Linked DNA regions of Homo sapiens: region 2 is linked to region 1. The links come from fine-mapping of genetic effects on gene expression. Tissue or cell type: subcutaneous fat. Region 1 holds a variant in brackets; the other region holds the start of a gene. All regions are shown on one strand. Distances are between the middles of the regions.

What was found.
Region 2: WTAP starts here. The variant in region 1 is fine-mapped to the expression of WTAP in subcutaneous fat (TwinsUK, PIP 0.95).

What each region holds. Positions count from the first base shown.
Region 1 is chr6:159,753,600-159,769,411 of GRCh38, reverse strand. It overlaps ACAT2 (acetyl-CoA acetyltransferase 2), which reads right to left and starts at 7,367. Exons shown (of 9, transcript NM_005891.3): 1 at 7,270-7,367; 2 at 6,359-6,493; 3 at 2,226-2,407; 4 at 784-901. The coding sequence starts at 7,324. It overlaps SOD2-OT1 (SOD2 overlapping transcript 1), which reads left to right and starts at 7,080. Exons shown (of 2, transcript NR_037166.1): 1 at 7,080-7,418; 2 at 7,776-9,154. It overlaps WTAP (WT1 associated protein), which reads right to left. Exons shown (of 8, transcript NM_001270531.2): 7 at 15,798-15,812; 8 at 13,093-14,384. The coding sequence ends at 13,801. It also overlaps a transcript of SOD2 not described here. RefSeq lists enhancers at 5,486-5,986, 8,055-8,114 and silencers at 7,395-7,544, 7,565-7,624. The variant C/G (reference allele first, on the strand shown) is at 7,648.
Region 2 is chr6:159,720,654-159,736,465 of GRCh38, reverse strand. It overlaps WTAP (WT1 associated protein), which reads right to left and starts at 8,960. Exons shown (of 8, transcript NM_001270531.2): 1 at 8,763-8,960; 2 at 171-208. The coding sequence starts at 200. It also overlaps a transcript of SOD2 not described here. RefSeq lists silencers at 2,518-2,778, 8,542-9,091 and enhancers at 8,554-9,151, 9,102-9,231, 9,582-9,671, 9,152-9,749.

The DNA of each region.
Region 1 (15,812 bases):
TTAATGACCACCTCTAGTTATGGTTGAGGCAGTTGGTCACACAGTGTCTTCCATTGTCTGCCTGTGTTTTTATAGCCTTCTCTGTTGTGGCTGTAAGTCGAGAAGTGGTCAAGATGCCTTGAGCTTCTCATTGCTTCCCATATCCCTAAGCCCTTCCTTCCTTCCTAGCATTCATGCACACAGTTCCCTCTTGGAATCTTGTACTTTTCCCCATTACCTTTTTCACATATTTATGTGTTACATAAAACCAGAGCCATTGCTGCATGCATTTGAGCAAGGTGCTTAACTTCTCAGGGTTTGATTCTTTAACTCTAAAATGTCTATTCTGTTTCTTAAGTTTTACATGTATACTAAAGACAAGAGTGCTTTTGATTTCCCAGTTGCTTTGCCATTAAACTTAGACCACAGGACCCTTCAGCATGAATGACCAATAACCCAATTGTGTAGTACAAAAAGTACAGCTAGGTACCAAAAAAACAACTGGTTTATCTCTGTCACTACCTCTGCCACAGAAGCACTATTTGTGGGCCCTGTTTCTTCATTTGGTAAAATGAGGGGTTGATCCAGAAGAACTCTGAGGTACTTCCCACTTCTAACATTCTCTGATAATCAAGAGTTCACAAAGAAGAGAATACTTACTTCACTTCAGTTAATCAAAGAAGAGATATAAAAATCCTTAAGACAGTCTCTGGCCATAAGGACGAAAGCACCTAAGAAGCAGATTAGTATATGGTCTTTTTAACCTTTTTAAAGCTAATACAGTTTCAGCCATGTCTGCCTTACCTGTAATACCCATATGACAGTTGTGAAATGCATCTGTAAGACCATCACAGAGTATACTGTCAGTCAGTGGCATCTCACCTATCTTTACTCCTGTTCTCAAGTAAGCCAAGTGAGGAGCCTAGAAGTCAGAAATAAAAATGGATTTAGGCTTAGTTGCAATTAGTCTTCTCCCCAGAATACAACTCAAAACTATCTAGTATTTCCTAAGTCTTCATCTAGGCCCCTTTGCAGCCCTTCTCCCCAGTTCTAGGTCCTCAGCCAGGCCAAGGTCTAAAGACCCCTGGAATTAGCAGACTTCATCTTTCCTATTGTTGGGAACGATTACTCTCCTACCTACCCATTTTCAATTCTCCCTCAAACCTACCCATTCTGTGTCCTGTTTCCTTAAGAATTCCATTTATTCTTTCCATCGAGGCAATTAATTATCTGTTAAATGAAGAAATCCTCTAAGGGCTTAAGTAAAGCTAACAATGTGTTACCTATTTCAATGGATGACATAATGTCTACAGTGAGAATAATCAGGCTAACTAAATGATGGGGAGGGATTTCTGAGTAGCGGCCAGTCTTAACTCTCACCAACTCAACAGCAGGTATATTAGAATGGAAAGAGTCATTGATTGGACTTAGAGTCGGAAGAGTTGTATTTGAATGCTGGCTCTGGTCCTCAGTTTCCTTACCTGTAAACTGGGAATGGTATCATCTACCCTATATGGGGCTGTTGTGAACACATGTACAAAAGCACCTGGTAAAGTACTACACAGATGTCAGTATCATCCCATCAAAATCACTCCGATTATTTTTGTTACCTTTAGCCTGCCTCCTCCTGAACCTCAGCAATGGCTGGGCTGAATCAGCTTCTATCTAGGGAATCTGCACCTCAGCCCCTGAGCTGCATCAGTAGGAAGCAGGGGGTATAGTTTTTCTTTCAACCACTATGCCAGTTTGAGGTATGGAACTTGGTGAAACAAATCATGCCTGGCAAACCTACTGGAGAAGGGCACCACTTGGTGGTCCTCTTTTACATGTTCTATACCCTGAAAAGGTCAAAAAGTCTGGTCCCCAGGATCTCCTTGTCATGTGCAGGAAGGTAAGTGGCAACATCTGTTTTTTGCCTTTTACTCACAATGGGAAAGAAATTTAAAACCAAGGACATCAAGCAACTAATATGAATTTAATTCAGAAAATATTACATGCTTCATTAATAGTTTAGAAAAAGTATATTCGGTTCCAATCACACTGGTTGATAAACTTCTTATCAACCCGGATTTCCCACCCAAACTGAAGAATACTTCACATTCAAGTAGGGATCAAGGTTGTCATTTCTGTTTATTTGTTCACTGTTTGGTTCCAGCTCTGCTATGCATCTGTTTACTCTGTTCTGGCATAGACATGAGTTTCTCAGTGTGAGGTCAGTGAAAGCCACCTCATCAGAGAGGCCTTACCTTGCTCATATTTTCCATGCCTCCTGCAACCACAATGCTGGAGTCTCCTATCCCTATTGACTGGACTGCAAGGCACACAGCTTTTAGGCCTGACCCACAGATCATCTGGCAGCTCCATGCTGGAACAGAGTAGGGAATTCCTGCACCCACACTGGCTTGTCTAACAGGATTCTGCCCACAGCCTAGAAAGAGGAACACAGAGGACTCTTAGCAATCAAGGAGAAAGACAAAATGTCACAGTGAAAGTGTGTGGAAAATTGCCAGTTGGGTTACCTGCCACTTCTGAAAGCCTACAGGTCAAGTAAGTGCCCACTGGAGGCAAAAAGGCCTGTATACACTCTCCACCTGTCACAGTCTAGCCCTTGAATATATACTGCCTTGTGCTGCTCTGTAGGTATTTCATAGATATAAGCTTTCTCCTCCATAAATAAGTCATTAATACATTAAGAAAGAAGTGTCATCCTCATCTTTTGATATGGCTTAAATAGTTGGGCGCGGTGGCTCATGCCTGTAATCCCAGCACTTTGGGAGGCCAAGGAGGGCAGATCACCTGAGGTCGGGAGTTTGAGACCAGCCTGACCAACATGGAGAAACTCTGTCTGTACTAAAAATACAAAATTAGCTAGGCGTGGTGGCGCATGAGTGTAATCCTAGTTACTAGGGAGGCTGAGGCAGGAGAATTGCTTGAACCTGGGAAGCGGAGGTTGCGGTGAGCTGAGATCACACCATTACACTCCAGCCTGGGCAACAAGGGCGAAACTCCGTCTCAAAAAAAAAAAAGTGCGGGGGGGTGCTTAAATAAGCATTATCAAACCTATGTCTAATAAACACAGGATATAACCTAGGCATTATCAGTGTTTCTAACTAGGGCCATTTGCTCCCAAGATCATGGCTTAAGACACTTGAGAAGAAAAAGGGTTACTTAAAAAGGAAAACCTTTGATAATAAGCAGTTCTGTTCTTGCTTAGTATTCATTACACTATGCTTAAATGGTTATATAACAAAATATATACAAACTCAGAATTCACAAATACCTTTTTTTCTCATTCTGAGTACTGAAACACAAATATCTTTTCATAATTCAACTATGGGACTTCCTTTAGTTGGGAAGAAATACATAATTTACTTAAAGTAGCACAGAAGAGAATGGAGTTAAAAGTTTCAAATATTCTCAATCGCCATTGTCTGTTATCAGAGTCAATGGTAAATGTTTATAAAGTGGTTACTCTATTCCCAGTTTCAGATATACTCAAACCTACCACCCTTCCTTGGAGAGTTTGTGGGGAAGAACTAGCAAATAAGTCGCTGATAAAAACTTAGAGATTATATTCATCACAATGTTATCAATCTGGGATTAGGCTGGAAACTAAAAACGGGTAAGGTTACTTGAGACTGAAAACATATGCAGGATCATATACATATTAAAAAGACAGGCCCAGTGCGGTGCCTCAGGCTGTGAGCAGTGGCTCACACCTGTAATCCCAGCACTTTGGGAGGCCGGGGGAGGGGGGCGCATTACTTGAGGTCAGGAGTTTGAGACCAGCCTGGACAATATGGTGAAACCCCCCCTCTCTACTAAAAATACAAAAATTAGCTGGGCATGGTGGTGCACGCCTGTAATCCCAGCTACTCAGGAGGTTGAGGCAGGAGAATTGCTTGAACCTGAGACAGAGGTTGCAGTGAGCCGAGATTGTACGGCTGCACTCCACCAGCCTGGGCGACAGAGTGAGACTCCATCTCAAAAAAAAGAAAAAGAAGAAATGAGGTACAGGGCTGGGCATGGTGGCTCATGCCTGTAATCCCAGCACTTTGGGAGGCCGAGGCGGGTGGATAACTTGAGGTCAGAAGTTCGAGACCAGCCTGGCCAACATGTTGAAACCCCATCTCTACTAAAAATACAAAAATTAGCTGGGCACAGTGGCAGGCACCTGTAATCCCAGTCACTTGGGAGGCTGAGGCAGAAGAATCACTGGAACCCGGGAGGCAGAGGTTGCAGTGAGCCAAGATTGCGTCACTGCACTCCAGCCTGGGCAACAGAGTGGGACTCCATCTCAAAAAAAGAAAAAGAAAGAAATGAGGTGCTAACACAATTAATAATGCTAGCATTTAGCATACTACGAGCTTCATGAGAATGAGAATTTCTATCTGATATGAACATTGCTTATCTCCAGCTGCTAAAATAGTGCCTGGCACAAAGTAGGTGCTCAATAAACATTTGTTACATGATTGTAGAAGGTATCTGGCTCAAGGAATAGGACAGATCTAAGTTCAAGTGCTAGCTCCACTTCAAACTGTGACCCTGGTAAGTCATTTAACCTCTTAAACTCTCATTTATTCATTTGTAAAATGAAGATAATAGGATATAACAGACTTGTGAGGAAGATTAAATGAGGTAATGAAAGGAAAGCATTTAGCACAGTGCTTTAAAAGCCTTAAACTTAGTAGACATGCACCGGTAGTCCCAGCTAGCTCAGAAGTTCAAGGGCATGGTGCACCATGATTGTGCCTGTGAACAGCCATTGCACTCACGCCCAGGCAACAGACAGACTCCACTTCTACAAAAAAATTTAAAAAATTAGCCAGGTGTGGTGGCCTGCTCCTGTAATCCCAGCTACTCCAGAGGCTGAGGTGGGAGGATACCGTGGAGCCCAGGAGTTTGAGGTTATAGTGGGCTACGATTGATTACACCACTGCATTCCAGCCTGGACAACAGAGTGAGACCCTGTCTCTTTAAATAATAATAATAATAATTAATTAATTAATTACGAGTGTTCAAACCCAAAGAATCAGAAGATGGGGGCACTCTCAGGACTCAGCTATATTCCTCTGGGGAGTGATATGCCCCATTTGCAAGGGGCATGATGTGGCACCTATTTTCCAAGCTCAGAACTGAGCCCTAAGAGGGCAGGGAACTTACCTGTATTGTTGGAACCATACTCCCAGCACTAAGCACAGTATGGGGCACATAGGAGGAACTGAATACATTTTTGTTGAATGAGTGACACTTTGAGGTAGTAAGGAGGAGCAGGCATACTTTCCTATGCGTCAGGCTGGCCCTGCTGCTGCTTCTTCTTCTTCTTTTTAAAAGGAGTCTCACTCTGTTGCCCAGGCTGAATGGAGTGCAGTGGCACAATCTCAGCTCACTGCAAGCTCCGCCTCCCGGGTTCACGCCATTCTCCTGTCTCAGCCTCCCAAGTAGCTGGGAATACAGGCGCCCGCCACCACACCCGGCTAATTTTTTGTATTTTTAGTAGAAACGGGGTTTCACCGTGTCAGCCAGGATGGTCTTGATCTCCTGACCTCATGATCCGCCCACCTCGGCCTCCCAGAGTGCTGGGATTACAGGCGTGAGCCACCGGGCCCGGCCGGCCCTGCTTCGTAAGAATGAAAAGGCAGTGGGCCGCCTGTAGTCCCAGCTACTCGGGAGGCTGAGGCAGGAGAATGGCGTGAAACCGGGAGACGGAGCTTGCAGTGAGCCGAGATCACGCCACTGCACTCCAGCCTGGGCCACAGAGAGAGACTCCGTCTCAAAAAAAAAAAAAAAAAAAAAAAAAAAAGGAAAAGAAAAGGCAGTGTAGGTGGTGTAGGTCAGTGGTCTAAGTTCATTCACAAAAAGCATATTAATGAAGCTAAGTCTTTTTGTTTGTTTAGAGAAGGGGTCTCACTCTGTCACCCATGACGGAGTGCAGTGACACAATCACTGCAGTCTCAAACTCCTGGGCTCAAGTGATCCTCCCACCTCAGCCTCTCCAGTAGCTGGGAGGCACAGGCCATCATACCTGGCTATTTTATTTTTTGTAGAGACGGGGTCTTGCTTTGTTGCCCAGGCTAGTCTCAAACTTCTGGACTCAAGTGATCCTTCCTCCTCCGCCTCCCAAAGTGCTGGGATTACAGGCGGGAGCCACCCTGCCTGGCCAAGAAGCTGAGTCTCAAGCTGGATAGAAGCTACTGACAGGGCTGGAAGAAGGGGGCCAACAGGAGGAATCATAACAGAGGGAACTCTGAGCAAAAGCAAGGAGGCAAGAACTTGAGTGAGTGAGAGAGTGTGTGAGTGTGTGAGAGTGTGTGTGTGTGTGTGTGTTTATGGGCTGTTTCTAATAAGCCTGACTTCTCCTGGAATCACTGAGACTTACCTGCTGCCAAGACATGTCCAAAGATGACCTCAGACACATCTTCCGGAGCCACAGTGGCCCTCTTCAAGACTTCTTTGATGACAGTGGAGCCCAGGTCCTGGACAGGAACAGCAGCTAAGGCACCATTGAAGGAACCTACAATAGAAAGGCGGAGAGCGTGGACATCACAAGCCTGCGGGTAATACGGGAACCACCTACGAGCAGGGGAGCCTCATGACCCTGTTTGGCAAGGCCACGCGAGGAGGCAGTGCCCTCTCCTCCCACACGTTCCTACACCTGCTGGTCTGAGCAAAGGTCAAGGTGGGTGCCACAACTCGCAGCAGCCGAGGGCTGGACAGGCGACCTCCAGAACGGCCTAGGGACGCCGCTGTAGCCCTTCTATTTCCCCAAATCCGAAGGACTGGATGCGACCCCATGCTTCCCAAACAAAAGGAACCGGCGGGTCAAGGGCGTTGAAAACCATGCGGCACGAAGGAGACGAAGTCACGACTTCTAGCCATTGTGTGACAGCCCGACCCCAGCCCAAAGCCGGGCTCAGACCACCTAGCAGTTCCGCCCCTGCCGCAGGCATTACCGATGGCGCCTCCCGGAGCCGGCCAATCAGGGGCCCCGGAGGAGAACACCTCCCTACGCCAACCAATGGGAGAGGCAGGCCACGCGATGGCTCTACCCCGGGAGCCAATCCAAGCACGAGGGACGGAGTGCGCACATCGGGAGAGGAGAGGGTGGGGCTGTAGCACCAGGTCAGGGAACGCGGGAGCCGCAGGGTTCCAGGGATCCCGCGGCTCCTCGCGGCTTGGCCTGACCGGCTTCCTCCACATACGCCCCTCTCCTACACAAGTCCGGCCCTCGGCGCTCCTGCCGAAGCAGCAGGCGCCTCGGACTCTGCGCGGCTCCCGCCGGCCACTCACCTATGATGGTCCGCGCCGCCGAGACGATGACCACAGGATCTGAGCCTGCATTCATCTTGCTTCTCCTGCCGCCGTCTGCCCTGCGCTGCCTGCAAGCTAGGCAAAGCTCCTCCTCGCAGCCCACAGGCCTGCCGCGGGCGGGACCTGAGGTAGCCCCGCCCCTCGCCCTCCACCTCCCCGCGCACCACCTCCCCGCGCATCCCACTGTGCGCAGGCGCAAGGCCGGAGCAGGGGCGGGCGGAGGCGCGCGGGGCGCGGGGCGCGGGGCGCGGGGCGGAAGTGAGGCCGGGGCGCGGGGCGCGGGGCGGAAGTGAGGCCGGGGTCTGGGCTTGCGGGCAGAACCGCGGACCTCGGACGCATTTACAGAGCGCCTGAAAC[C/G]CCAGTGTTTCTGGACACCCCAATGTTGGAGTTCCCCGACTTGACGTCTTGGGCTTTTTTTTAAAAAATCTTAGGGTTTCTCGAAACAGTAAAGACTGGGGGGTGACAAAGACTTATCTCTCGTTCAGCTCAGGACTGGAATCCCACGGGCGAGAATCTCGAGTGCGAGCCCGGCCCGCGGCGGGTCTCAGCACAGCTCTGATGGGTCCTTTTGCTCTCGGCGGCTTCGGGAGGTCCTATGCGTTTCTCCTGGCGCCAGTCATTCGCTCGCGTGAGGGGCTTGCTAGGAGCGTCTCGGTGCGAGCCCCCTGCCTTCTAAGATCAACTCTGGCTGTGAACGGGTGAGGACGCCGGGAGCGTCTTAGCGTCACAAAAGTTCCTTTGGTTGACGTTTGGACAGTGAAAGGAGCATGTAACAAGTGGGGTCAGTTTTGTTTAAAACCCTTTCTGACTTCCCAGCCTCTTACTGGGCAAAGTTCATAATTTTTCTGAGCTTTCTAGGGTTTCCAGGCAAGCTTATGAGGGGCCACCGTTACAGCAACTTGTTGGGAACACCTGGATAGTGGAACAAGAAAGCTTTGTCACAAAGTCATGAAGGGGAAAACTGTTGACGGACCTGGAGAATCTTCCTGAAGAACTTTAAAGTTGATTGAAAGAATCATTAAATCCTGGAAACCTACATTAAGACTTTGCAGAGATATGCGGATGGGTCAGATAAATCAGAGAAGGTAAAGAGTGTAGGCCCCAGAGGTGGGGCAATAGAGAAGGAAAAAAATTGCATAACAGTGCAATTTCAGGAGAAATCTTTAGGGTCTGGAATAGTGGTGAAATCAGCTGTCTACTCTGCTAAGAACTCAGCAGCACACTGAAGTCTCTTCAGTTGTCTTCAATGTGTTTCCTGTCCCCTAACATATCTGAGTCCAAGGAATTCAAGGAATGCCTCCCGTGGCTTTTGCTCTATTCTATCCCATTTTCCCCTTACTCCCTGGCCACTTCTGAGTCTTTGTGGGCTTACTCTCACATCCCCTTAACATGTTCCCCAAGGCTCCTACTTTGCACCAGCTCCCTGGGTAATACCAGTCATTCCTACGGCATCAATCACCACCTGTATACTGACAAGTCTGAAATCCTTACATCTAACCTCGTCTCCTAAGCTGACTGACCCTCTTCATTTAAATTCTTACAAGCACATCAGGTCGGGCACCTTGGCTCACACCTGTAATCCCAGCACTTTGGGAGGCCGAGGAGGGCGGATCATTTGAGGTCAGCAGTTTGACACCAGCCTGGCCAACATGGTGATATCCCGTTTCTACCATAAAATAGAAAAATTAGCCGGGCGTGGTGCCGTGCGCCTGTAATCCCAGCTACTGGGGAGGCTGACATGGGAAAATCGCTTGAACCTAGGAGGCAGAGGTTTCAGTGAGCCGAGATCACACCACTGCACTCCAGCCTGAGCGACAGAGAGAAACTGTCTCAAATAAATAAAATTTCCTATAAGCACATCAAATTTGACATATTGAAACCAAACTCTTCCAGCCTGTTTCTTCTGTAATCTCAGTGAGCAGTGAAACTATCTTCTGTTAACCAAACCAGAAATTTACCTCTGAAACTCCCCCTAAACATCACTTCTTCCAGAAAAACCTTCCAATCTCCTGCATTTGGTGCAGCATCTTACCCCTAACTTCCTCTTTCAACTTACCATGTAATTCCTAGTTTATCTGTCTCCTCTACTGACTACATAAGCTTTCCAAGATGATCCTGTTACACTGCTTTATGCACAGCTCCTAGCACATTATAGGCAGTTATGAATGAACACCAATATTCTTTATGGCCAGTGCCTAGCACATTTGAATGAGTATGAATATATTCTTCTGGAGCCAAGGGATATAGAGTTTCCTGCCTGAAGGCTCTATCTAGAGTAAGTTTAGGAGCCAATCTTGAGAAGGTAATTGCATGCTTCTGCTGAGTGGCCAAACAGAATCTGTCCCCTGAGGAGTCCTCATTATAGCTACTCATATGATTATCTACTCATATGAGACAGACAGAGACTAAGAATAATGAATGAAGGAAAGAAGAGGAATTTTTTTTTTTTTTTTGAGACGGAGCTCGCTCTGTCACCCAGGCTGGAGTGCAGTGGCGCTATCTCGGCTCACCACAACCTCCACCTCCCGGGTTCAAGCGATTCTTCTGCCTCAGAGTCCTGAGTAGCTGGGATTACAGGCCCGTGCCATCATGCCCAGCTAATTTTTATATTTTTAGTAAAGACGGGGTTTCACCATGTTAGTCAGGCTGATCTCGAACTCCTGACCTTGTGATCCGCCCACCTCGGCCTCCCAAAGTGCTGGGATTACAGGCGTGAGCCACCGCGCCCGGCCAGCTGGAAGATAATTTTTAAAATTATGTCTTGGCCGGCCGCGGTGGCTCATGCCTGTAATCCCAGCACTTTGGGAGGCCGAGGCGGGCAGATCACCTGAGGTCGGGAGTTCAAGACCTGCCTGACCAACATGCAGAAACTCTGTCTCTACTAAAATACAAAATTAGCTGGGCGTGGTGCCACATGCCTGTAAATCCCAGCTACTAGGGAGGCTGAGGCAGGAGAATTGCTTGAACCTGGGAGGCGGAGGTTGTGGTGGGCCGAGATTGCACCATTGTACTCCAGCCTGGGCAACAAGAGCGAAACTCCATCTCAAAAAAAAAAAAAGAAATAAAATAAAATTACATCTAGATCTCAAATCATAAACTACCTGGACTGGTGAGCAGGGTGAGTGGGCAGGAAGCCACAAAAATCTCCAAGTGCTTACTCATGAGGAGCCATCATTACAGCAGTGCTATGGAGCCAGTTTATCCTGAAGGGGCCTTCTCAGCATCTTCCCCCGCTGGAAGATGCAATCATTCTTGGTTAAGTTTCATAAAGAGTTGCAGGAGTCCAAGCCAGGTCTTTGCTACAGGCTGGATTCACCAACCTACCATGCAGCAAATTCCTCCTTGGTCTCCATGAGGGGAACAGTGAATCACCAAAGTGGAATTGCCATAGGATGAAGGTCAGCAGTGTACTCCTTACCACTAGGGGCTAGCTCAACACTCCCTCAGCACAGCCACCCCATGATGGGTCCAGATCAGTTAATGACATTACCTGGGATTATGAAAGTGTTCACTATAACCACAGGGATAGGTGAACTCCCAAGACAGTGACGTAGAGCAGCAGGCAATGATTTGAGTACAGGGCATAACTACTCATGAAAGAGGGAACATCTGAGAAAGTAAGTTGTCAGAAGGAATGGCTTTACATTGTTTTGCAAAAGTGTCTCAAAAACTGGAGTAGTCAGTTGTATCCAATACACCTGAGGAGCCAAGGAAACTGACATCTATTGCGCTCTCTGTATGAGGACTACCAGGAACCAAACTGGGGCACCAATCAGGGGGCACTGTGATCTTTAGACTTCCCAGCCTCCAAAAACAGTGAGGAATGCGCGTGTAAAGCCACCCAGTCTGTGGTTTTTTTTTTTTTTCACAGCAGCCCAAGCTAAGACAGCAGTGAGTGCTCTTACAGGGGAGAAAAACAAAACAAAATATCGAGCCTCGAGGATACATTTGCCCAAATCAGTTAAGTGTAATACCAGGATTCAAACCAATTAGATGCAGAAGCCACTCTATCACCTCTCTTATCACAGGCATACCAGAAAATAAAGCATCCAATTCCAGAAATGAGAAATACTGACTCTGTGTACCACAGAATAAGTGCTCTGAGTTATTCATCAAGGCAGACTCAACAGAAACATGAAAATGTCACATTAACAGGTCCATATTAAATTCAGTCATAAAATTGTATCACTGGTTGAAAAATTAATTTCCTATCACAAACTCTTGATTACATTACACCAACAGGACAGAGAAATTACATTTTTGTTTAAATTGGTCAAGTTGAAGGATGTACATAACAAAAGCCAAACACAGTATCTGATATATCAAACACCAAAATGTTTAATCACATGCAAATTAAAAATCGTATAGGATTTTTTACTCACTTGAGCAGACTGTAGAAAAGGTTAATCAAGGTTGGGCGCGGTGGCTCACACCTGTAATCCCAGCACTTTGGGAGGCCGAGGTGGGTGGATCACAAGGTCAGGAGTTCGAGACCAGCCTGGCCAACACAGTGAAACCTCATCTCTTCTAAAAATACAAAAATAAGCCGGGCATGGTGGCGCACGCCTGTAATCCCAGCTACTCAGGAGTCTGAGGCAGGAGAATTACTTGAATCCGGGAGGTGGAGGTTGCAGTGAGCCACGATGGTGCCACTGCACTCCAGCCTGGGTGGCAGAGCGAGACTCTCGGCAAAAAAAAAAAAGAGAAAAAGAAAAAAAAGAAAAGGTTAATCAAGAGACAGTGCAGTATTTAACATACTGCTGAAGACCGGATATACCTGTATCAGCTAAACAAGCAAAAGCAGCAATTACTTTCAAATAAGTTGTACCTCAGTTTTCGAGTATTATAACTCCACTCCCAAGGTTCCTTGATTGTATTACAAGTTATGTCTAAAACAATACTTTGCTTTTAACAGAAATGGAATTTCATTTCAACCATATATGAAAGCTACACATTTGAAGGCCATTCAATATCATACTTTTATACTTAATTACCTCTGAGAAAATGGAGCAAATTTTGACATTCTTCCACCTTAAAAACATTTTCTCCTACCTACATTCTAACACCCCTTACTCATATAATATTACCAGATATGTTGTTAGTAAAAATCAGTAGTGCTGGCCAGCGTTTTAAAACAAACATCACTAACTACAAAGATACTCTACTTGAAATCAGGTCACAAAAAACCAACGCTGCTTTTCAATTAAAACTCAAAAAGGGCCAGGAGCTGTAGCTCACTCCTGCAATCCCAACACGTTGGGAAGCCAAGGCAGAAGGATCCCTTGGGGCCAGGAGTTTGAGGCCAGCCTGTGCAACATAGCGAGGCCTTGTCTCTACTAAAATTAAAATAAATGTAGCTGGGTGTGGTAGTATATGCCTATAGTCTCAGGTACTCGGAAGCCTGAAGTGGGAGGATCACTTGAGTCGAGGACTTTGAGGCTGCAGTGAGCCATGACTGCACCACTGCACTTGAGCCTAAGTGACAAAGCAAGACCCTGTCTCAATTAAAAAAAAAAAAAAAAAAAAAGCCTAAGAAATAGATGACTATTTTCTTTATACTTTTCTGTATTTTAAAATATTTTGTAACAATTATAAGTCAAGAAAAAATTTTAAGTGTAGCCCTAAACTCCAGCTCCGTTTTGCAAAATAAGGCATAAATTAAAAATTGTGTGCAAAATCGTAATCGATGCTTGGTCTTAAGTTTGACTGTTGTGGTACTTGAAGGATAATGAGTAGAAATTCAATGACTCAATGAAAATGACAAATGCTAAACATACACCCAAAACAAAACAAAAAAGCTAATTAAGGAGTTACAATAAAAATCTTTATTTAGGTTTGGTCAGTACAGGTAAGATATACTGGAGTCACAGAGCAATATGCATTAACAGGATACAACAGTTCATAAAAACTGAGTAACTATGCACACAAATTTCTTAAACAGTCACCTAAAGAGAAAATGCACAGATGTATGGTGGAAAAAACTGTATCTAACACTGAAACTACTACAGGACTCCATCAATGAGTCCAACTTTTAGTGATAAAAAACTACTGTACTGGGCAAACTTGGCAGTCATAAACCCACATCTACTCTAACAAGTCTGAATGGTGCATAAGTACAGTAACAGCATGAGTACGAATGCCCTTACACAGCACAGATTCTAAACAGACAGATTTATACAGACATCATTGTGTTGTATTTTAAGGAAAAATTTCCATTTACAATTTCACATTAACTCATATAAAAATAACTTGACCCTACACAAAATGTCCTTTTAGCAACATTCAAAGTAATTAACTGTTACAATTTCCAAAGCGGCAGAAGTATTGAAGCAAAAAAAAAAAAAAAAAAAAAAAAAGAAAAGAAAAAAAAAACAAAGAAAAAAAACAACAAAAAAAAACCAAAACGTACACCCACAAAAAGGCAAATTGTGACAAAAGTATGCATTAATTTTCTGGACAGTATCCTCTCCCAAATTAAATGACACTGTATAAAAATTTGCTGAAAAAATATTACAAAACTGAACCCTGTACATTTACACTTGAGTCCAAGCCATTCTGAACGTGGCGGGAACCCACAGTTCGATTACCTTTCCCACTCACTGCTTTCTCCTCTTGAGGGTCATGACTGGAGTCTGTGTCATTTGATTGGTGTGTGAGAGAGTTTTCACTGCCCGTGGGAGAGTCTACACTTTCATACCCCGCACTGAGTTGATTTACGTAACCACTACCTCCTCTGCCAGTTCTCTCCTCTGAGCTGTTGGAGGACTTATTACCATTCCCTGGAGAAGAAGGAAAGTCATCTTCGGTTGTGTTGCCCTCCCTGTGAAATCCAGACCCAGACGTCCTCTGGCGGGAGGAGCTACCATTACTTGGTCCGTTTGTCAGACGACTGCAGTCTTTACTTGTGGCCTCTGACTGTTCTACAGGTTCAGAAGCTGTAGTCCTGCTGGTACTTGGGGCAGAGGCCTGAGACTGCTGCTGCTGGTACTGAGCCAACTGCTGGCGTGTCTCCTTCAGCTGCTGCTGCAGAACTAGAATGGTACTCTGCATACCCTCTACTTCTTCATCAAGCTGGATGATGAAGTCATTCAGTTCTGTGCAAAGGAGAGTCAGACCAACTTTAATATCGTTTATAACATTGAAAAATGTTTCTTTAGTGCCTGCCACAAAGCAAGGGAGTCAATAAACGCTCAAGTAAACAAATACAATTCTAAAATCACACTACATTTAAAAATTTTGCTTGGAATCTTAAAATATGACTGAGTTTGTTTTGGGGGAAGTCAGATACTTAAAATAATATACAGTTGGCCCTCCACATGCAACAATGAATTCAAGCAACTGTAGAAGGAAAATATTCAAGGAAGAAAAAACTGGGTCTATACTGAACATGTACAGATTTTTTTTCTTGTCATTATCCCCCAAACAATACAGTAAAATAACTATTTTCCTAGCATTTATATTGTATTAGGTACTGTTAATCTAGAGATGGCTCAAAGGGGAAGATGTACATAGGTTTATATGTAAATATGACATCATTTTATATGAGGGGCTTACTGTGGGAGGTCCTGACACCAATCCACCATGGATACCGAGGGCAACTGTATTAAGCAACCAAGTTAAAATTGTTTTGATCCATCTTGCCATATGCCTGATTACAGCCCCAAAGTTTGACTCACGTTTACCTATGGGCCCACTATGGCCAATCCCCTTATTCCTGATCCAGTGCCTTAGTTCCATAGCAAGTCTGATCCTTAAGGATAGTGTGGTCCTCTATAACACTCCAAAGAGGCCCATGTTCTCAACCAAGGACTGTTACATATAAAAGGACAAAAGTCACAGGAAATAATTCCTGAAGATTTTGAAAAGGTAGGTAGTTCAGAAGAAATTACTTGGCTACTGATCATCTTTGCAATTAACCAGAGACACTAATTTTCAATTTAAAATTTCAAAGAATTTGGATATTTTCCTTATTAATAATGCACCTTACAAAGAAGAGAAACAGAGATACAGCTACACTTGCACTAAAAAGGATGGAGGCTGACAAGTTTTATCTCAGCAAATTTAAAGATTAAATCTCTTATTCACTAATAAAACCTTCACAGATACAATCAACTTTATTACTTTCAGATCGCTGAAAACTGCCCATGTTTCTAAGATTTACACTTAACGAGAAATGCTTATTCTCCCTTTCAAACAATGAATACAAATTTGTCCATCTTGTTAAGTAATACAACACCCTTTTATCTTTTACCAAATCCTACCCCCAACTAAAAACAAAAATGTAAGAAATTTTGAACAATAAAGAATTAGGAGGGTGGGGATAAACAAACTAAAATTATATGGCTTTGTTTGCGGACTCAACTAAAAATGCTTCACTCACAATAATATACAATCATAGGGCAGAGGTTAACAATGTACAGAATCTAACCTATAATATTCATGACTGGCAGTTTTAAAAAGCCAATGCAAAGTTGAGACAACGTTCCAAAAAGAAACAAACCCCTTACCATCCTGACTGCTTT
Region 2 (15,812 bases), 33 kb after region 1:
CAATATCTGGCACACTGTACAACTCCAATGCTATTATTGTTATAAAGGCAAAGAAATGAAAAATAAGCAAACAACGATAATCCCTTCAAGTCTATTTTTTTTTAAAGTGCTTAAAAAAGCCCCCAAAAAACCCAAAACAAAACAAAAAAACCCAAAACCAAAACCCATACCTTCTTGGGAAGAGGTTCTTCGTTGGTCATCTTGAATCCTAAAAAAAAAAGTTGCGGAAAACAAGTTCAATTTATTTTCTTCCAGTGAAAGTAGGAATAAAAAATACTGACTCTTTCAAATCAATTTATTAGTGAACTAAATTACTGTTGAATAATTAGAATTTAAATAAACAATTTTAAAATAGTTTTAGATTTACAAAAAAGTGGCAAAGATATTACAGAGTTCCTATATACTCTGTACCCAGATCTTCCTTTGTTAACATCTTCCATCATTAGAGTTATTGGGTAGTTTTTACAAATTCCCTCGTAAAAAAGCTGATCAGCCATTCAAATCATTTGATGTCGCCATAAAGGGTGAAGAGAAATATAATGACCTCAAGTAGTATCCTACGCATGTTGCTAAGGGACTATAAAAGGGTAATACCAGTTTAAGTCTTTCCTTTTATAGCATTATGTTGTTAAAGTAAGGTAGTACCTACCACAGCCATAATTTACTACTGCCCAATAGTTTTTTAGATATATTATATATTTTATTTTTATTTTTTTTGAGACACAGTCTCACTCTGTCGCCCAGGATGGAGTGCAGTGGCGCGATCTCAGGTCACTGCAACCTCCGCCTCCAGGGTTCAAGCAATTCTCCTGCCTCAGCCCCCTAAATAGCTGGGACTACAGGTGCGTGCCACCACACCTGGCTCATTTTTGTATTTTTAGTAGAGACGGGGTTTCACCGTGTTGGTCAGGCTGGTCTCGAACTCCTGACATTGCAACCCGTCCGCCTTGGCCTCCCAAAGTGCTGGGATTACAGGAATGAACCACCACGCCCATCCTATTACATATTTTAAAATATATGTTACACTGGTTGGGCGTGATGGCTCACGACTGTAATCTCAGCATTTTGGGAGGCTGGTGGGTGGATCACTTGAGGTCAGAAGTTCAAGACAAGTCTGGCCAACATGGTGAAACTCGGTCTCTACCAAAAAATTAAAAAAATTAGCCCGGCGTAGTGGCACACGCCTGTAATCCCAGCTACTAGGGAGACTGAGGCAGGAATCGCCTGAACCTGGGAGGCGGAGGTTGCAGTGAGCCGAGATGGCGCGCCACTGCATTCCAGCCTGGGCAACAGAGACTCCATCTCAAACAAACAAACAACAAAAACTCACATACACATGTATGTCACACCTTAATAAAAATATTCCTACAGTATTTAATTTTATGCCAAATATTTTGTATCTCAAAATTAGCTTCTTTATTATACAAAATTCACTTAACCCTGTTTCAAAGATAGGTTAATGAATTCAAGTAGGGAACACTTTATTATGCTGTTTTTTAGAACGAATGCTAATAGCAGGTATTATTCATTAAACTACAAATCCACACACAAAAAAAAGACAAAGAAAAAATGTGTAATAAACATAAACACCACATTAAAATACAAGGTTGGAAAAAAAAGTATACGACATGAAGAGCTAACCTGACAAACATAAAATCTTTATATAAAAATTCTATGAGGATTAAAAAATTGAATCAGGGTTCTGAGTACCAGTGCTCTTTTGAAAAAGCATCTAAATTGCATTTGGCATATTCATAACTTATACAAATTAAGTAATTAGTTCTTATACTAATTTAGTTTTTCCTATTCTTTCTTTCTTAAGAGATGGGGACCCACCATAGTGCCCAGGCTAGTCTTGAACTCTTGGGCTCAAGTCATACTCTCATCTCAGCCTCCCAAGTAGCTAGAACTACCTGTGGAAGGATCACGCCCAGCCCTAGTTATTATTTCTAATAGTATACTCATGAATCTTCCCTTACTTTAAAGTGTTTATGGTTTATTTTAATTACCCATACTTATTATAAATTCTAAACTACTAGAAATTTGACCAAAAGCTTGGTATGTTAAACTGAATTTTTTTTTTTTTTTTTGAGATGGAGTCTCACTCTGTTGCCAGGCTGGAGTGCTGTGGCATCATCTCGAAAGCTACTTGAGGCTGGTGTGGTGGCTCACACTTGTAATCCCAGCACTTTGGGAGGCTGAGGCAGGAGAGCTGCTTGAGCCTAGGAGTTTGAACCGAGCCCGGGCAATGTGGTAAGACCCTGTCTCTCATTAAAACAAACAAACAAAACACACACACACCAAGACTACTTGATTTCTCCCACTTGATTTTGAGATTCCTCAAAAGGAGATAATCTTCCAACAGCATGTTTTATACTACGTACAATCTCAACTCCACTTTATAAATGAAACATTCTAATCATACTGTTATTAAACCCTGGTTTTCAGATTAAGTAAATTGTGTTGAAGAAAGCAGAATTTAGAGGAAAAATCATAAATTGATCTTAGATTACTGGCTTGCTTCTTTCTCTGTTTAATCTTTTTTTTTGGAGATGGAGTTTCGCTCTTGTTGCCCGGGGTGGAGTGCAACGGCGCGATCTCGGCTCACCGCAACCTCCGCCTCCTGGGTTCAAGCAATTCTCCTGCCTCAGCCTCCCAAGTAGCTGGGATTACAGGCATGCGCCACCACGCCCGGCTAACTTCCTTGTATTTTTAGTAGAGACGGGGTTTCTCCATGTTGGTCAGGGTGGTCTGGAAATCCCGACCTCAGGTGATCTGCCCACCTCAGCCTCCCAAGTGCTGGGACTACAGGCATGAGCCAGCGTGCTGGGCTTTTTTTTTTTTTTGAGACAGTCTCGCTCTGTCACCTAGACCACAGTGCAGTGGTGCGATGATGGCTCACTGCAATCTTGACCTCCCAGGCTCAAGTGATCCTCCCACCTCAGCCTCCCGAGTACCTGGGACTACAGGCATGTGCCACCACACCCAGTTAATTTTTTGTAATTTTTTTTGGTAGAGACAGGGTTTCGCCATGCTGCCCAGGCTGGTCTCGAACTCCTGGGCGCAAGCAATCCAACTGCCTTGGCCTCCCAAAGTGCTGGCATTACAGGCGTGAGCCACTGCACCCTGCCTTCCCTCTTTAATCTTTCTCAAGGGATACAGCAAACAGATAAAAACCTCAGTATTTGTTTCTGAGCTAATTGTATACAGTCTGTTTCACTGAGCAAGTCACTCTGTCCTATGAAGACATAAACCATATTACTATGATATAAAATGTATATTATTCTTTTTTTCTTTAAATTGGTTCCTCCCTTGTTGCCCAGTTTATTATCTCTGCTGCCATTACAGAAAGCTGCTTTGTAACTACCTTAACCTGGTGGCAGTCATTTTAATCATCTCAGAAACCATCACCATATTTAACTCCACATGTCTAACTACTTCTATTTTAGCATGACACATGCATTAGGCTGCAAAGTCTTAGAACCCAGATATCAAATCTGGCATTTCCTTGTAATTTCCCATTTGTCTGGAGCTAAATATCAATTTTACACACACACACACACACACACACACACACACTATATATATATACAGAGAGAGAGAGAGAGAGAGAGAAAGAAGCAGACAGAGACACTCCCCCTCCCCCTGCGCCCGGTCTCTGTTGCCCAGGCTGGAGTGCAATGGCGCGATCTCGGCTCACTGCAACCTCCACCGCCTGGATTCAAGCGATTCTCCTGCCTCAGCCTCCAGAGTAGCTGAGATTACAGGTGCCTGCCACCACGCCCGGCTAATTTTTGTATTTTTAGTTTCACCATGTTGACCAGGCTGGTCTCGAACTCCTCACCTCAGGTAATCCACCTGCTTTGGCCTCCCAAAGTGTTGGGATTACAGGTGTAAGCTACTGCGCCCGGCCAATAATATTTTTAATTTAAAAAATCTTAAAGACAATTTTAGCTATTTGAGCTGTACATATTTAACCGGTATATCAGTATCTGTATCTATGTATATACGAACATAAAATTTTGAGAACCAACCAGGAACTTCACGTAACAGGTACTGTGGTAGAGATCTGTGAATGACAGTTTGAAAACAGCTATATTTATCACTATGGCTAGGTGGTATACCTTTTATCTAGTTACTAAGGCATCCTACCTACTCAGTATGTACAACTTTAGTTGTAATACTAAAGTATCATGGATGCTGTTCAATATAAATTCCAGCTTATAAAAGTTATTATAGTTGGTCCTTGACCAACCCAGGTTTTAGCTGCATGGGTCCATTTATATTTGGATTTTTTTCAATCAAACTCAGATTAAAAAATACAGTACTCGGATCAAAAATACAGCATTCACGGGATGCGAAACCTGAGTATGCAAAGGGCAGACTTTTCATACACCAGGGTTCAAATTCCTATGCCAGGATTTTGGCAAGGATCATCGGTATGTGGTTCTACAACCTGATACTTTCCCTAGGTTTACTTGCTTACTCTCTTCTTAAAGACAGGTATCCATATTCTTATTCCACTAAAATAAAATTAACAGTAAGCTTAGCAAAAAATGAGATGATAATCTGTTTTTAAAGGGCATTAAAAGGACTGAGAAACACATGAAGAAAGTTCTGATAACCTTGGTATTCTGAAACAGGTTGTCAACTTTGCAAATACAAAAGTAGCAAAATCTCTGCACCTCAGTTTCCCCATCTCAAAAAGAATTACCACAACCAGGGCCCAAATACTGTGCTATTTCTGAAGACAGACATTAATCTTTAGCATGGTAACTGGCACAAAATGGGCATTTAATTAATAGTTTCTTCTCCCCATCAAAAACACAGACTCAGTGTTTCTTGAAAAACCTGAAGAGATAATCCACAGGTTGAGGATAATAATCATACTGTCCTCCCGACTGTTTCTAACACTTACTGCAGAATTCTTTGGCATCTCCAATATTTAGGATTCTAAACAGAAGTTACTTAAATTTTCTTTTTTTCCTCTCTTTTTTTGAGACAGAGTCTCACTCTGTCGCCCAGGCTGGAGTGCAGTGACTCGATCACAGCTCACTGCAGCCTCCATCTCTTGGGCTCAACTGATCCTCTTGCCTCAGCCTCCTTTGTAGCTGGGATCACAGGCATGAACCACCACGCCCAGCTAATTTGTTTTTTTTTTCTTGGTAGTAGAGATGAGGTCTTGCTATGTTGCCCAGGCTGGTCTTGAACTCCTGGGCTCAGGAATCCTCCTGCTTGGGCCTCCAAAAGTGCTGGGACTACAGTTGTGAGCCACCATGCCCAGCCTGCAATTATTGAAATTTCTTTTCTTTTTTTCTTTTTTTTGAGACGTAGTCTCTCTCTGTTGCCCAGGCTGGAGTGCACGGGCATGATCTGGGCTCACTGCAACCTCCGCCTCCCGGGTTCAAGCGATTCTACTGCCTCAGCCTCCCAAGGAGCTGGAACTACAGGCACGCACCACCATGCCCAGCTAATTTTTGTATTTCTTTTTTTTTTCTAGTAGAGACAGCGTTTCACTATGTTGGCCAGGCTGGTCTCCAACTCCTGACATTGGCTTATGTTCTTTTTAAAAAGTTTGATGGTGAGTAGATTTTAATTAAATGGTGCTTTTTATTGAAATTTTCTTTAAAAATAAAACTCTGTATTTGTAATGTAAGTCAGGAGTAAATACAGATTTTGGATAAATGTCTACACTTCCTAAGTCAACTCTCAGAGTCACTTTTAAGATCACTCTAGCTGTCTGGGGTATCCAACTTGGGAAATTCAGAGCCTCAGTATTTAGAAAGAAAATCCTTCCTCAACTTTAATCTGATGAAAAGTAAATCTTTCCTTGAAAGTCGATGATATGCCACAAAGTTAAATGCGCCATCTGGCAAAAGGCAAATTAGAACAGGTTCAAAATTTACAACTGTCTACAACATTCAACTATTTGGTCAAAATAGAACCTAATTGGCAATTTTGACTTTCACACCACACGAATGTACCGAGAAGTTTGGTATTCCCCAGGGCAATTTTTTTTTTAGCGCAAATGACAAACACAATAACCTAAATTTAAAGTCAATTCTAGATTCATAAAGGCAATGAATATTCTAGGTTCTCAGAACAATCTATTCTCGTATCAGAAAAACAGAATGACCATAACATCATTTGGAGTCAATTAAAGTTGAATCCTGAAGGAAAATAATAAAGAAAATATGTTCAGTTCTTATGAATCACACATTTAATAACAGCACTTTTCAAAGTCAAAGTTAGTTCCCATTTTCCAGGATGAAAATGACTGTTAGTCATTAGGTGATCAGCTATTAGGTGATTAAAACAGCTATTAATTAATAAATTGGGGGTAAGGGTCTCAAATTTGGTGCCCCTCAAAAGGGTGGTAACATGATTGACTAGTTTTAAAATTACATAAAAGTTTCAGTTATTTATGTAGATAATTCAGAGATAATATATCTCAGAAAATCAGGACCACCATCTACTCTTGATGCCTTAACACAGAAAAACAGCTTAGTATGGAGTTCAGTCTAGACTGGTTAGGTGCCTAGCATCCCAGATCCCAGTACCTTCCTGGCTCTTAGCATCATAAAGTTAGGTAACTCAGTTCCCTCTGAACGGAGGCAAGCGCCAGCCAAAACAACTTCAGTAAGAAGACACGGTACCTTGGCGAACAAATCATAGCTGAATGTAAGACACCAATCTGCAGACACTGTAGTAGCAAGGTACTGATGAGGAACTGAAAGGCCATCTTTTCCTTATCCTCTATCTGCCATGTGTGATTCCAAGCAAGTCTTTTAACTCTTGCAGTTTCCAAGTCAGCAAAAAGATAATTTTGCCTGTCTCACAAAGTGCTGCAAATATTAATGCTTTCAGCACAATAAAAATGCTATAGATTTTTCAAATAAAATATGAACATAATATGAACATAAAAGGCAACTTCAATGTGCACTTAGAAAAGATTAAATTCTATTAACTACATCTTCAAAGGCAGAAAATATTTACAGCAATATATTTTAGTCAGATGGAACATCTTGTTATACACAATACACAATGAAGTTTACTATTGTGGAGATACTGAAAAGTTTTTCTGTGTTAAGCTTAGTAACTACAAGAAGCAAAATATTTAGAGGCAGAAAAGTTGGAGACAACTAAAAAAATTAAAAACAAGAATAAAACCAAAATACTATCTTCAGTCTTCTTTTGCTGAAGGACCTACTAACTAACGTACAATTTTGAGGAGCAAGAAGCAAATACATAATGATCAAAACTGCTAAACAATATATTCAAGGGGATTCAATACTACATACAAGACCATAAGAGACCTTGAACGCTTTAATGTACTGTACAAATTGTGACAATGCTCATCTCCACATCACAGGGCTTTTTACACATTGTGTTTCATCTCTACCAGCTTATTTCTGACAAACAATACACAAAAATATTTTCAGCAAACATGACTCAACGTTGAATTGGAAAAGCTAGACATAAAAGAGCCATGTAAAAATAAGCAGTGCCTGGGACACACTATTATTATTACTTTTATCCTTTAGGAGTTAGCAATTCTGGTAGCTTGTCCAAATTCTGCCAATGAAAAAGTACTAAAAATACTGAACTTTTAAACCATGTGTCTGCTTAAGATACCTTAACATATAAAAGCACTGTAAGAAACACACCTACCCAAACCCTTAAAATGTAACCTCAACCTTATCACAAGCCAGCTTTGCGGACTGCAATCTTTCCCCGACTTGGCTAATCAGATGCTACTTGAATGAATTAAAATGTATCCATCTTGAAAAGATTTTTCGCTCATAGTTTTAAATTACGGTTTTAAATGTCCACAACATGTTTATCTATCGTAGAAAACTTAATGGTCAAAATTTTAAAATCCAAAAAACGAGAACTTGCGATGGATCTATGACGTCCACTTATCTTCCGAAGCAATGGAATTAACTAAAACTAGATAAAATAGGCACAAATACAACTTCCAATTGTAACATACTCATAGAAGTATTTCCCTACCAGACTAAATAATAGTTTTTTTGTTTTGTTTTGTTTTTTTTACATAATCACAGTTATGCTAGTCCTTGATAATGTTAAGCTAATCCTTTGGGATCAAACAACCAAGTGACTTTCTTATCAAAACAAGAACTCGGGCTTTTCCATTACGTGTACACAGACTTATGAAAAACGGTGAAAAAAAAATCTAGTAACTGTCTCACAGGGATCCAAGGTAAGACTTGGATTTCACAAAAATCTGCAATAATTCAGTTTCTTTCCTCAGAATGCTTATACTCATTTAAAAATGGAAGTCTACAAGAGAACGTAGTAACATCCTACTGCGTGACATGAAATGTAGGGAACGAATGTTTCTTTTTTTCCTTGCTGAACTCGTTAGTGCCGCCAGGTCCTCAGGAGAGGCCCAAGGGAGGTGAAGGGGGCGACCCCGAGGCGAGGAAAAAACGAGCGCCGCCGCTCAGCCCGGGGAGGGCATCCTCCGGCCTCCGTGAGTGGCCGGTCTCTCCGGCCGCCAGAGCACCCCTCTCAACCCGGGCCTTGGGGACGGAGGACAGAGATAAAATGGCCTCGAAGCGGCGGAAGTGTTCCCCGCAGGCGGGAAGGTAGAGCGGCTCACGAGAGACCGGTGCCGCACCAGGCCCGTGTGGCCTTTCGGGCCCTGCCCGCCCCTTACCCGCCGGGGGCGGCTGCGCATCAGCCCTCAGGCCCCGGAGGTCCCCCGCGTCCGCTCCCGCCAGCCGGCCCGCGCCTACCTCTCCAGGCAGAAGCCGCGCCGGCGCCACCGGTCGCATAGGCCGAGGCCGCGCTGCTTGCCCTGCCGCCCGGGCCCCCCGGGCCACCGCGCAGCCGGACAGCTCTGCCGCCGGCCCCGCCGCGCTCCTAGTCCCGCCGCAACCCCTGCGCTCCCCTTTATTTGTGGGTCTCGCTGCCACAAAATGGCGCTGAGGGAGGAAACCAGGCCCCGCCGCCCGGCCCCGCCCCGCCGCACGGCTCCGCTCCGCCCTGCCCCGCCCCACAGCCGGTCCGAACGCGCCGCAGGCCAGCGCCACTGCCTCCCGCCTCCCGCCTCCCGCCTCCCGCCAGCCTCCCCGCTCCGCCATGTTCGCCTTCTGGCCCACTCACAGGAGAGTCGCCTTTCAGGCGTGGCCGCAGTCACTCGCCCGCCGCCGAACCCCGCCAGGAGAGGAAAGGTGAAGGGAGGGAGGCCGTCGGCCTAGCCCGATCGGGGCCTCGAGGCACAATGGAGCAGCTGCTCCCCGGTAACACTCCCCGTCCTTTCCCAGGAGCCTGGCGCGAGCTCCGCGGGCCCCGGAGCTCAGCAAGCTCAGTAAGGGAAGCGGCCGAGGGGAGGGGCGGGCCAGCGAGGTCGGAGGTCAGCCCCAGGGCATCACGGGAAGGGAAGGTGGAAGTACTCGCCGGGGCCACCTGCGGCTGCGGGGCTGCCTCGTGCGGAGGGATCTGGGCGAAGGCGGCGCGTGATTGGCCGCTCTGTGTTCGTGACGCTCATCCGTGATGCTTCCGCGTGTCGGAGGACCAGGTGCCACCTCAAGAGAGAGGCCGTGGGCGGCGAGCCGCGGGCGTTTACTCTTAGCAGAAGCTCACCTGTAAGTTTTGAGAACTTAGAAACCGATGCCTTCCCTCTCATCAGTCGTGAGGCGCAGTCTCCTGGCCGCTGGGTTCGTTCCTCCTTGACATCTCTGGAGACGCATCGAGGAGCTATTGTTCTCTGGCGTCGGAGGTTGCGCTGTGTCCGCGGCGTTGAGGGCCCCTTGCTAACTGGAACACGGGGAAGGCGGCCCTGTGAGGTTTAGTGAACTCAATCAAAGAGGTCCTGCAAGTGGAGTAGACTCCCTGAAGTAAGACTGCCATCTGGACCGCCGAGTAATGGCGGTGTTACCTGGAGAACGTGAAACAGTCTCTAAACACTTACTAGAAGAGCACGTAATTCTTTTGATTGGTCTGTCCTTAGCCGGCTTTATCAAACCTGTTCATCCCCAAAGGAGTGTCTTGTAGTAAGGTGATTTATTAGGATAAGATTAAAGTACATTCCAGATGGTCGTAGTATATTTCCAGTGAATCAGATCGGTCTGGAGAAAATCTTTGCAACTCGTATCACAAGAGCTCTCAAAAATTGAAAACAAAAAGTGCAAAAGCCAAAGGAGAAAATGGGGAAGGACATGAACAGATGATTCTCAGAAAAAATACCGTAATGGTCTTTAAACATAGAAAGTCGCTCCACCTCACTTACAATGGAAATACACGTTGAAATTACCTTTCCTGGTGGGAGTGGAAAAATGGTTCAAGTTCCACGGAGTACAAAATTACTTGTGTTTATTCTTATACCTTGCAGTTATACTTCTAACCCTAACCTTATTCTGAAGGTGCAGCTCCACACATGGAAACAATAGGTATACAAGGTTATTGCAGTGCTATTTGTCATAGCAAAAGTTAGGGATAACCCAAATATCCGTTAATAGGGAACTGATTGGGAATGGTGCATCCATACAGTAGAACACAATGCAACCATTAAAAAGATTCAGGAAATAATCGTGTGTTGCTTTGGAATGAGTCTCAGGTTGTATTAAGTATTCACTTAAATATTTAAGTGTAGTAAGTATTCACTGTATTCAAAAGCAAAAATAAGCATATATGCTTTTATGTATTTACTTAAATACATAAAAATATATATTTATATTTAATATGAATATTTATGTGTATATGCTTATTTTCGGGGAGGAATTGGAAGGATATCCTGGAAACTTAACATTTTTAGTTGCCTATAAAGAGTGGGGGGTGGAGACAAGATTTCTCTGTCTTTGAACTTTTAGTTTTACATAGCCAAAAAAGTAAATAAAAAAGGAAACAAAGTAAATCCTAAGGTTGAAAGCAAATTGAAACAAATGAACTTAACTGTTAACTAATATAACTAAGATACACAGAAAAAATAATTATTCTTTGGGTTTTTTTTTTTTTTTTTGAGACAGTCTCACTGTGTTGCCCAGGCTGGAGTGCAGTGGTGCAATCTCAGCTCACTGCAACCTCTGTCTCCTGGGTTCAAGCGATTCTCTCAGCTCAGCCTCCTGAATAGCTGGGATTACAGGCATGCGCCACCATCCCCTGCTGATTTTTGTATTTTTAATAGAGATGGGATTTCACCATGTTGGCCAGGCTGGTCTGGAACTCCTGACCTCAGGTGATCCGCCTGCAGGTTGGCCTCCCAAAGTGCTGGGATTACAGGAATGAACCACCACCACTGGCCCCTCTGAGCTTTTGAACACAGTACTCTAGTAGTGTATCTGTGTTGTGATAGTGTAGTCTTTCCTTATATGCAGGAGATTGGATTTAGGACCTTCTGCGAGCATATACAGAAATCTGCATACTAAAGTCCCGGAGCTGAGCATAGGGAAAGTTGGTTCTTTGTGTAGGTGTGTTTTGCATCCCACTGTACTTCTGTTTTGTTTTCTTCCTTCCTTCCCTTTCCTTTCTTTTTCTTTTCTTTTTTTCTTTCTCTCCCTCTCTTCTTCCCTCCCTTCTTCCCTCCCTCCCTCTCTTCCCCCCTCCCTTCCTTCCCTTCTCTTGCTTTTCTTTTTTTTTTTCTTTTTTGAGAACAGGGTCTGACTCTGTCGTCCAGGCTGGAGTGCAGTGGTACGATCATGGCTCACTACAGCCTTGACTTCCTGGGCTCAAGCAATCCTCCCATCTCAGCCTCCCGAGTAGCTGGGACCACAGGCATGTGCCAGCACATCTAGCTAATTTTTTTCTATTTTCAGTAGAGAGCTGTGTTGCCTAGGCTGGTCTTGAACTCCTGGGCTCAAGTGATCCTCCCACCTAGCCTCCCAAAATGCTGGGATTATAGGTGTGAGCCACCGTCCCTCGCCCCACTGTATTTTTCATCTGTGTTGGGGTGAAAAAAATCCACATATAGGTGGACCCTGGCAGTCCAAACCAGTGTTGTTCAAGGGTCAACTGTGTATTCTAAGGATGAAAAAAGTGCACAGGAGCTTTCAGCTTCACTGATTTATGATTAATGGTAACATTGTTACTGTGGTTTTAAAACTCTGTACTGTATATGGTAGGATAACATAAGTATTTTAATGTTACTATATACAAAGATGTGCAGTGTGTGAGAGAATGAGATACAAACACAAGATCAAAGAAGTTCAGAAAAGGGCCGGGTGGCTGATGCCTGTAATCCCAGCACTTTGATAGGCCAAAGCGGGAGGATCACTAGAGTCCAGGAGTTTGAGACCAGCCTGGGCAACATAGCAAGACCCTGTCTCCATTTTTTAAAAAATTTAAAACAATTTTTAAGACGTTCATTCATCCGGGGGTGGGGGTGGAAACTAATATAAAGAATTTTAAGAAGTTCAGAAAAAAAAAGTCTGTAGTATTGAGTTTAAACTGGAGGGCTGGGTGCAGTGGCACACACCTGTAATCCCAGTGCTTTGGGAAGCCAAAGTGGCTTAGGAGTTCAAGACCAGCCTGGGCAACACAGTGAGATCTTGTCTCTACAAAATACAAAATAATAAAATAGCCAGGGGTGGTGGCCTGTGCCTATAGTCCTAGCTACTTGGGAGGCTGAGGCGAGAGGCCCAAATGAGCCCAGGAGTTTAAAGTTACAATGAGCTGTGATCTCACCAGTGCACTACAGCTTGGGCAACAGACCCTATCAAAAAGAAAAAAAAGTTTCAACTGCAAAAAAAAGTCCTAGTTCTGTGGACTGAAAGGGCCTAGAAGCACTAGGGTGACCAGTTGTTCTAGTTTGCCACAAACAGAGGGGTTTTCTCTGGATGCTGGACTTTCAGATTAAAACTGGAACAGTCCTGGCTGAACCAGGATGTATAGGCATGGGCACCCTACAGTAACAGTGAGCACATCTGACACTGAGATCTTGGTTTCTAAATTCCATTTCCCACTAAAAAGATCCAGAGCTCCTTTGGAGAACTGGCTGATTCCAGCTCTGGGACGGGAAAGGTACAAGATGAGCCAGGTATTTCGTTGTGCCTGAATGCAGAGGAAGTGCTTAGACCAATGAGGCTATGCCAACTGTAGTTAGGAGAACAAACAACACTAATCCATAGTGGTAGATAGCAGATCAGTGGTTGGTTAGGAGGGGAAGAGAGAAGGAATTGACTGGAAAGGAAAATGGGAGAACTTTTGGGGGTGATGGAAATGTTCTGTGTCATGGTTAGTGGGAATGTATACGTTTGTCAAAATTCATCAAATTGTGTCACTGTAAAGAATGCATTTTATTGCAAACCAAATGAGAAAAGCAAAGTCGATTGAGAACTTGCTGTAGCAAGGGAGTCAGCCACCATCCCTTATGTTTTAGCAGAGGTTCAAAGGCATGCAGAGGAGTGGGAAAGCTTTACAGTGGACAAAAGGAAAGGTTTCACAGGTATGCCTGATTGGAAGCTGTTGGCATGGGGAAGCTGGAAGCTAACTACAAGTTGGCATCCTATGGTCTTGGTTAAAGGAGCATATTTGGCTTTCTCTGGATGGGCATAAGCTAGAAGTGAGGACAAAAAGTAGGGAAGCTGTCAAGTTTTAATCAAGTCCTGGCCATTTTGAGCTGATTGTCATAGAAGTTATTATTTAGCTTCCTGGATTGCTACCAGAGATAGCAGTCTGACTTCCTACAAGTCTGGTTGATAGCAGGTTTGGCTTTCAGGCTGAGAGTACACTTATGGTAAATAAGTGGTTGGTTTACTGGGCTAGTTGTTGTAGGTAATGGGTCAGAATTCTGTTTTTATGTATATTCTGGCCATTTACCATTTGTATTTTCAGTCTCTCAAAAATAAATTTTAGAGACATGGGAGCCAGCTTGAAGGATCTCCCAGGGGGCAAATTTAGGGCAATTTTAGCGTCAAAAAGAAAATGAATACAATTGATTGCAAATACTGAATAAATAAAAGTCTACTCTCTAGTACAGAGAAGAGAGAATGAGAAGAGGGAAACTATTTTTCCATCATTGGTAGTGTCTATTACACCAATTTGATACTCTGAAAATTAGTTATTAAAGGGAGATAGCATTTACCCTGTTTGTTTTTTGTTTCATTTGTTTTTGTTTTTAAGACAGAGTCTTGCTCTGTCATCCAGGCTGGAGTGCAGTGGCACAAACATGGCTCACTGCAGTCTTGACCTCCTGGGCTCAAGTGATCCTCGTGCCTCGTCAGAAGCTGGGACTACAGGTGCCTGCCACCATACCTGGCTAAGTGTTTTTGCTTGCTTTTTTGTTTTTTTAGAGATGGGGTCTTGCTATGTTGCCCAGGCTGGTCTTGAACTCCTGGGCTCAAGTGATGCTCCCACCTCAACCTCCCAAAGCGCTGGGAGTACAGGCATGGGCCACTGCTCCCAACCTACCCTGCTTTTTTTTTCTTTTTTTTTTTAATAAAGAATGTGGTTTATACCCAGTTGATGAGGAAAAACTCTTCTTTACTATAGGATGCCAGCTAATAAGTATAAAATAAAATATAGAATTAGACAATAACCATGATGCAAACCTTAATGAAATAATTGACTCAGACAAGGACTATCAATGGACTTCAAAACCTTTAGATGAAAGATTGCTGGGAAATGCCATCAAAGTATCACTCTACAGGCTACTTACCTAATTGTAAAAGAAATTACAGGCTGGGTGTGGTGGCTTACGCCTGTAATCCCAGCACTTTGGGAGGCCGAGGCTAGCAGATCATGAGGTCAGGAGTTCAAGACCAACCTGGCAACATAGTGAAACCCCATCTCTACTAAAAATACAAAAAAAAAAAAAAAAAAAAAAAAGGTCAGCCGCAGTGGCTCATGCCTGTAATCCTGTAATCCCAGCACTTTGGGAGGCCAAGGCAGGCAGATCACCTGAGGTTGGGAGTTCGAGACCAGCCTGACCAACGTGGAGAAACCCCGTCTCTACTAAAAATACAAAATTAGCCGGGCATGGTGGCACATGCCTGTAATCCCAGCTACTCAGGAGGCTGAGGCAGGAGAATTGCTTGAACCCAGGAGATGGAGGTTGTGGTGAGCCAAGATCGCACCATTGCACTCCAGCCTGGGCAATGAGAGCAAAACTCCGTCTCAAAAATAAATAAATAAAACGGCTGGGCACGGTGGCTCATGCCTGTAATCCCAGCACTTTGGGAGGCCGAGGCGGGCAGATCACGAGGTCAGGAGATTGAGACCATCCTGGCTAACATGGTGAAACCCCATCTCTACTAAAAATACAAAAAATTAGCCAGGCGTGGTGGTGGTCACCAGTGGTCCCAGCTACTCGGGAGGCTGAGGCAGGAGAATGGCATGAACCCAGGAGGCAGAGCTTGCAGCGAGCTGAGATTGTGCCATTGCACTCCAGCCTGGGTGACAGAGCGAGACTCCGTCTCAAAAAAAAAATTAAAAAATATAAATAAATAAAAATTAAATAAAAATAAAAATACAAAAAAAAAATAGTCGGGTGCAGTGGCATGTGCCTGTAGTCCCAGCTCCTTGGGAGGCTGAGGCAGGAGAATCACTTGAACCCAGGAGCAGAGGTTGCACTGAGCCGAGATCGCGCCATTGCACTACAGCCTGGGCGACACAACAAGACACTGTCTCAAAAAAAAAAAAAAAAAAAAAAAAAAAGGTAAAGAAAATACACCTGTATAGTGGAGCCATCTGGTGGTCACCATTTGAACCAAACCATCAAATTTAGTATCAGTAATAGTGGGACAACCTCCAGTTTACAGAGAATACAAGAGAAAGGGTTGTCATGCAAATCTGATAGTACTAGCAAAGATAATTATTCTAAAAAAAAAGTCGTAAGACTATAAGCAATA